Homo sapiens: one gene and its partner. The protein of the gene in region 1 purifies or fractionates together with the protein of each later gene. This does not show direct contact. Each region holds a gene or a part of one and is shown on either strand. Other genes may lie near its edges.

Region 1 (3,821 bases):
TGAAGCTCAGCTCAGGCTGCCTGTCTACAGGAAAGCCTGTGAGACAGGGCCACATTCCTCAACATCTGGATTACTCATCAGTATGAGAGGGGTTCCCCAATACGTACCACGTTGTGGAACTCCCAAGGATGTCTGTAACGACAGAAAATAAATTGCTATGAGCATCAGACCATGCTGTGTCCTGTGAGCACAGGACTTTTCTTCACTTAGTGACATTAGAAAACAAGATGGAAAACCCAGTGTTCAAAGGAACCCCAAAGAAGCGAACAAATCAACTCATACTAAAGACACACATTTTTCTCAGAGGATGTTTCCTCTGAAGTCCATGTTGGCTGGCAAGTAGCTGATTTTGCTCCAAAGAGAACAAAATTGGTAAGGCTCACTGTTACACAACAGGTGACTGATGCTGTCATTTTCTCCCACTGTCTTAAATCAAGCCTCAGTGGGGACAGACTCTCACTTACCATTTCCCTCAAGGACACTGTGTAACTAAGATATATATCTTCAGATTCTCATATCTTAATTTAATCCAAATAAGATAAAGCTAAGAAAGCAACAGTTTTTTCTCAGACAAATCCAGTTGGCCTGACCTTCACCTCCTCTGGGTCCTCCTCCTCACCGTTGTAACTGGACAGCTCCTGAAGTACATCCCTGATCAGAACTAGGAGGATACAAAGTGACCATCAGCACCTTGGTGGTGGTGCTCATGAACAATTCAGTAACACTGCTTGAGGTGGGTTTGGGAGGAGGGTAGCAGGCACAGGAGAGATGCAGGAAGAAAGGGAATCAGGGCCTTTGGCTTCCTAGCTCCAGGCCACCTCATAAACATATAATAGCCAATCTCAAACAGTGCACACCACGCAGTGCAGGCTGTGTGTCCCTGGCAGCCTCTTAGGGCTCCTCCTTCCTAATCTGACCTGAGCTAACTTGCCCTCTTATTGATCCCTGACAAAGTCATTTCCTCCTCAGAATCCACATGTGCTGCTGATCTGTTTATCATCCCTTCTAGAAGATTTTGTACGGAATAAGAAGCAACCTTTCTTAAAATAGGAGATTTAATTCTAGCCAAAAGATTTTATTACTAACTTTCTGGTACAAGGCAAATAAACCAAGATTTGAAAATAATTTTCCTACCATTTAAAGATGACCCCTACTTAGCATGTGGTATTTGTTCTTCCACTTTCCCTTTTCAACAGAATTTGTGTGTAGCATGATGTTCACTGCTCCCCATGCTCACACTGACTCCAGCACTGGAGCAGCCTGTCATGGGGAGCAGCGAGGGGGTGCGGGGGGTGGGCACTGACCCTCTCCAATCCAGCTGTGCAGGAGATTCCAGCAGGGAAAATGGGTGCCCGGCTAACACCCAAGTTGAGCCTTGACTTTTTTTTATTGGATTCTATGTCTTGGGATTGGGTTCCACTGAACTTCTAAGACTTGCCGTGATTATCTCATCAAATACAATAGAGTATGGCACTGATTATCGTCTGCTTTTGAACAGGAGCTGAGGAATGACCTCAACGCTGTAGACCAAAAGCCTGAGGACTCTGTGTGTTTTACATTAATGATCACACTAAAGCCCACTGTGCAATGTACCTACTCAAACAAACCCTGGGTTAGATGACCATTGACACCATCTGATAATGATAGTGTTTGGGATCTGAATAGGTTTTCATTCTCCCACATGCACACAGAAGTGCTGGAATAACTTGGCCTAGCAAGAAATTATACCAGGGCTTTGTGACAAATTCAGTGTACTAGCTCATGGCATTAACCTTCCACTCATCCCTGAGTTCACATGTGCCTCTTCCATTTAAAAGACCAAGAGCTTGGGAAATTCAACTCTGCAGCATGTCCATCTGAGGACTGCGGATATTAAACTTATCTTCAGGTACAGCTGTGGTGGAGGATGAATGGGTTGATTTATGCAAACTGTGCAGTGGTGATGGAATTTTTCTTGAACATTGATCCTCATGTTGTGCTTTGCAGATGGGAGTGTGTTTTCTGGGGAAATGCACACACACTCCCAAAGACATCCACAATCATTCCATACAGACTGTCTCCTCTGTCCCTCCCATCCCTGATGTACCACCCCACCTTAGATGACACTGCTGCTTCCAGGGATGACAGTAGCATGGTTAGAGTGGTTTACTGGATCTTAGCATTCTTTTAAACCAAACTTCCCAAATCTCATTTCTGGCAGACAGCTCAAACCAGAGTGGCTCTTGAACAAAGGCAGGCAAAACAGTGCCATCTTTGCAACTCTAATATTTTGAACCTAAACAAAGAGATGATCCCAGAATACGTACATTCGGCCAGTGTGTCTGGGTCCCCCTCCATCTAGAGAAAAACAAAACACTATGAGGATCAGACCAGGCTGTGTCCTGTGTGCACAGGTCTTCTCTTCACTTGTTTATGTTAAAAAAACAGATGGTAAATAGTACTTGAGACAATGGCCCCGATATCTAGAAGACATTCGTGGAAAGGCACAAGATTTTTGTGCAAGATTTTCATTGTTTTTGTTTGACAATTCCAAATTTTTCTCAAGAAGACATTTCTCTTAAGGTAAATGCCTGCTGACACACAGTTTGTAAATGTGGATGCCATCTGAAACCACTCTTTAGTTGATAATGAACGCTGACATTTGCCCACCAAGAAATTCTGTCAGTCACCTATAGTGTACATGGTGAGATGTATACATCTTAATTCAATTGAAACAGAGAAACCGAGAGAAATAAAATTTCCTTTTCAGAGGAAAGAAGACGACTTTACCGTGTGAACTTCTGTGGCTTCCTCAGAGACTGTCTGCCCTGGCCCATGCTCCTCCAGGTCTTCCAGGTCACCTAGGAAACAGAGTCGCTATAAGCACATGAGCTCCACTGAGTGAATCCCTCAGGTGGTCTTGGAGCTGTGGACACGGGGCTGGCGTGTGTGGAAAGGTGTGTTCACAGCACAGACTCAGCTGCTGCCAGTCCATCCTCCATGGTGGAGGGAAGGCAAATGGTGAAGGAAGGCATCAGGAAGGCCTCAGAAGACAGAGCCTTGGGTCCTCTAGCTAAGGCAACCTCTTTGAGATGAAGTAACCCATCTCAAACAGGGCACACCACACAGTGTTTCCCTGGAGCATCGACAGCTTCTCCTTCCTAATCTGACCTGAGCTAACTTGCCCTCCCTTCTTGATCCCCTAGAGGTCATTTCCTCCCCAGGATCCACATGTCCTGCTGCTGTGTATTTTGTCCCTCCTAGATTTATTATTATTATTATTTTTGAGATGGAGTTACTCTCTTCTTGCCCCAGCTGGAGTATAATTGTGCAATCTCAACCCACCACCACCTCTGCCTCCCAGGTTCAAGTGATTCTCCAGCCTCAGCCTCCTGAGTAGCTGGGATTATAGGCATGCATCACCATGCCCAGTTAATTCTGTATTTTTAGGAGAGATGGGTTTTCTCCATGTTGGTCAGCCTGGTTTCGAACGCCTGACCTCAGGTGATCCACCCGTCTTGGCCCCCCAAACTGCTGGAATTACAGGTGTGAGCCACCACGCCTGACCAGAATATTCTGTACTAGAAACAAAGCAACCTTTCTTCAATGAGGAGATTAATTCTATTAAAATATTCTATGTATTCACTAACCTTTTGTTTTAAAGAAGACTAAACCAAGATTTGAAAATACTCAATTATCCTACCATTTAAAGATGACTGCTACTTGGCCCGTGATGTTTGTCCTTCTGCCCTTCCTTTTAACACAGTGTGTGTGTGCCACGGGACCTGCTGCTGCTCATGCTCACACTGGCTCCAGCATTAGGACAGCCCATCACGGGGGCA
Region 2 (3,821 bases), on another chromosome or scaffold:
TTGAGACGGAGTCTCGCTCTGTCGCCCAGGCTGGAGTGCAGTGGTGCCATCTCGGCTCACTACAAGCTCCACTTCCTGGGTTCACGCCATTCTCCTGCCTCAACCTCCCGAGTAGCTGGGACCACAGGCGCCTGCCACCACGCCCGGCTAATTTTTTGTATTTTTTTAGTTGAGACGGGGTTTCACCGTGTTAGCCAGGATGGTCTCAATCTCCTGACCTGGTGATCCTCCCGCCTCGGCCTCCCAAAGTGAGGTTTTTGAGCTACTCAGTTTGCCTGAAATTTAGACATAGAGCTTAATGATCAAAGTTTAGACAGCACATAAGAAAATTTTTACCATATGTTACTTTGAACTCCCAGGAGCAGACAGGTTCAAGCGCTTCTTAGGGCCCCAGAGTCTTCAGCCCCTGCCCACCTTGCACTTACTGGAACTAAAACAAAACCAACCTAGTGGCTCATAAATCCTGCAGTTTTGGGGTATAACAATACAGCAGCTTTCTATTATGGGATTTGCTTCATTGTGTGACCTGTATTGCTATACCAGGAACCAGAAGGGTGGACAAAACACATGTATTTATTTAATAAATATTAGGTTGGTGCAAAAATAATTGTGGTTTTTGCCATTGAAAGTAATGGCAAAAACCGCAATTACTTTTGCACCAATCTATATATAGCCTTATTCCACAAAGAGAATATATTTCTTTAAATAAATGGATTTTTAAAAACTTTGGTAAAGACTGAGCATATATAATACCACATCATTATCGATGTTACATAAACTTAAAAGAAATAAAGAGATGGAGAGAATCAGCTTGCTATCTTTATTTCTTTATTTGCACTGGGAAATAACATCTTTGTCTACTATTTCTAGCATCTGAGATCCAGGTCAGTTGTGATTAATTTTTCTCTGTATTATGCAATGTATTTTCCTGCTTTTCATGCCTCTCTACTGGATGCTAGACATTGTACATTTTACCTTCTTGGGCACTGAATATTTTTGTAGTCCCAGAGGTACTTTTGAGCTTTGTCCTAGGATGCAGTGTGATCCTTTCAGGTCCTGCTGTATAGCTGTGTCAGGTGGCAGTGCCCATCTAGGGTTTCTCACTTGTGTTTTCTACCCAGTGCCCCATAAATCATGAGGTTTTCCAGCTAGGGTGGTGGGAACAGGCCCTACCCTAGGTCCTGTGTCAGCACCACTGTTCCTTCTAATCTTCTCACATGGCTCTTTCTCTGGCCTGAGGTGGTTCCTTACACACATGCGCTGATCAGTAGGGCTGTGCTGCCTAGTTGAGGGAGCTCCCTCTGGCCCCCGACTTAGATCTGTGTGTCTCTCTCCAGTACTGTGACCGCGAGTTCCGGCCACCTTAGTCTCCCTGGATCCCTGGCATTGTTTTCCTACTGCAGGGAGGCTGGCAGGCTCCACCTGGGTTCCCCCCGCATGCACACTGCAGCTGGGACCCTCCTCGGAGCATGAGCTGGACAATCACAGGGCTCCCCTCCTGAGTTTGCCCTCTCAAGAATCACTATCCTTCACTCCCTGGTATTTGGTGGCTTGCAAACCGTTGTTTCACATATTTTGTCCATTGTTTGCTTGTTTCATGCAGGAGGGAAAAGTCCAGTACCTGTTTCTCCATCTTAGCCATATGAGACTCTTAAATTATTATTTTTTTCCTTTCCTAGCACCAGAAAGTTTGATGCAGGCATTGGAAGACTTAGATTATCTGGCAGCACTGGATAATGATGGAAATCTTTCTGAATTTGGAATCATCATGTCAGAGTTTCCTCTTGATCCACAACTCTCGAAGTCTATCTTAGCGTCCTGTGAATTTGACTGTGTAGATGAAGTGCTAACAATCGCAGCCATGGTAACAGGTATCCTTAATGACTATTCCTTTTCTTTTTTTGCAAATCTGCACTAGGTATAGATTTAGATCGGATCCATTTGAAATTATATTTTGAGGAGCACAGAGCAGAGATAGTGATCAACTCATTTAACCTTTTGAAATGATAGTGAGGTATTTTAATAGGTTAGAAAAGGAAAATTTTCTTAATATGAAAAATTATCTTAAGAAAACTAACTCAAAGTTCAGCAAATTTATACATCAGATGTATGAAAACATACTAGATTTCTTTTGCTGAAATAATCAGTGCAGATGAAGAAAATGTGTCACTAGAGGTGTTTTTCCCCAAATAATGTTGTGTGCCTGTTTTTTATTTCCTATTGGCTTCATTCATCCTGGCTTGTATGTTTTAATTTATTCTAATACTGGGGGAACAGACCAACCATTGTGCTGTATCGGAACTGGTTCCAATCCTCTTCTTGTGTCTGGACCTCCAAGCACCTCAGGTTTTCCCTGCTCCTGCCGGAATAGAAGCAGGATATTAACCATATTCAGTTGACCTTAGAAAAGCAAACACACACACACAAAAGGAGAGGGAGAATTAGGATGACTCACTCTAAATTTCTGGGATTTCTAAGTAAACAAGAATAACATATTTATTCAGAGTACCAAGACAGGAGCCATGCCACTAACAGTCGTGACCCCTCCCCTCTGCATGTTAGGCTAAGATAAAATGTCTTCATTATTGCTAACCATGTGACCTTTTTCATTTTGAAGCTCCAAATTGCTTTTCACATGTGCCACATGGAGCTGAAGAGGCTGCCTTGACTTGTTGGAAGACATTTTTACATCCCGAAGGAGATCACTTTACCCTCATCAGCATTTACAAGGCTTACCAAGACACAACTCTGAATTCTAGCAGTGAGTGTAAGTGAATGCTCAGAAACTACCTATTAATTCCACCTTCCTTTCCCTAGATAAGTCTGAGTCCTTATTAGTTATTCATCAAACATTCTTCGCCAGCCCTACTGGCCACTTGAATGCAATGGCACTTGAGGCCCTAAACGCACCCACAGGCATCTGCAGAGTGGGAGATGCTCAGTCCCCCTGCTCCCACGGAGCTCTGGTGTGCCACCATGGCGGGCCTGTACTTCCAGAGCTCCAGGACTCCACTCAGCCAGCCTTCAGAGCAAGCTTGCTTGGGGCATGGTGACGGGGGACACAGACTCGTACATGGGTCTTTGGAGGAAGACAAGAACAGCCACCTCTACGTGCCCACTGTCAGAGTTGTGCTGTGCACCTTCCGTATCCTGGCACATTCACCACGTGCATGCAGAGAGGCTGCAGAGCTCCAGATACTAGTGCAGAATAGGTAGGCTGGGGTGCTGAGGGGAGGCTGCAGAGTTGCTGACGGAGCTTGATAGAGGAGAGCAGAGGGTGTCCAGAGAAGAGAATGGCGCATGTCAAAGCAAAGCCACAAAGTCCTTTGTATGCCTGAAGGGCAGTGGGTAGCTTACCTGTCACAGGAAGGTACTCAGAAGTCAACTGGAAGCTGCTATGCAGACAGAAACAAGAGGAGGGGGCAAACAGGGCAAAGCAGCATAGCAGAGGCTAGAGCCACCCATAAAGGGCAGCCAGTAAGGTCCCTCCCTGACATTTTCCATGAAGCATCTTTTACCTCCTTTGTTCTGAAAGATGGTGTGAAAATATGTGAAGTAGTGTGAAAAATATGACAGCAATTTGAAAGACAGAATTGTATAAAGAACAGGGAGTTAGTGTTTCAAAGCTGAGAAGAAAAAGTTGTCAGTGGAGCCAGCAGGTACACAGGAATCTGGTGGCACCTTTTGAGGGCATGCTGAATGGGTGACACTAAGTACATGCTGTGGTTGCTCCGAGCAGCATGAGTGGACAGGACAGGGTAAATGAGGGTCTTCTGTCCATGGTGCCATGGCCATGTACATTCCCAGGTCCATCTTAAGTA

What was found.
Region 2: the proteins of FAM153A (region 1) and DHX32 purify together in Homo sapiens (affinity purification with mass spectrometry; one large-scale study listed by BioGRID and IntAct). This does not show direct contact.

Annotation. Positions count from the first base shown.
Region 1 is NC_000005.10:177,734,273-177,738,093, forward strand, and holds part of FAM153A (protein FAM153A), read right to left. Parts: intron 2,841-3,821; coding exon 2,770-2,840; intron 2,338-2,769; coding exon 2,307-2,337; intron 662-2,306; coding exon 591-661; intron 133-590; coding exon 108-132; intron 1-107.
Region 2 is NC_000010.11:125,839,793-125,843,613, reverse strand, and holds part of DHX32 (putative pre-mRNA-splicing factor ATP-dependent RNA helicase DHX32), read left to right. Parts: intron 1-811; exon of another isoform or gene 812-1,679; coding exon 1,680-1,871; exon of another isoform or gene 1,872-2,254; coding exon of another isoform or gene 2,255-2,359; intron 2,360-2,617; coding exon 2,618-2,767; intron 2,768-3,821. Other genes in the region: BCCIP (BRCA2 and CDKN1A-interacting protein), read right to left, coding at 2,284-2,359.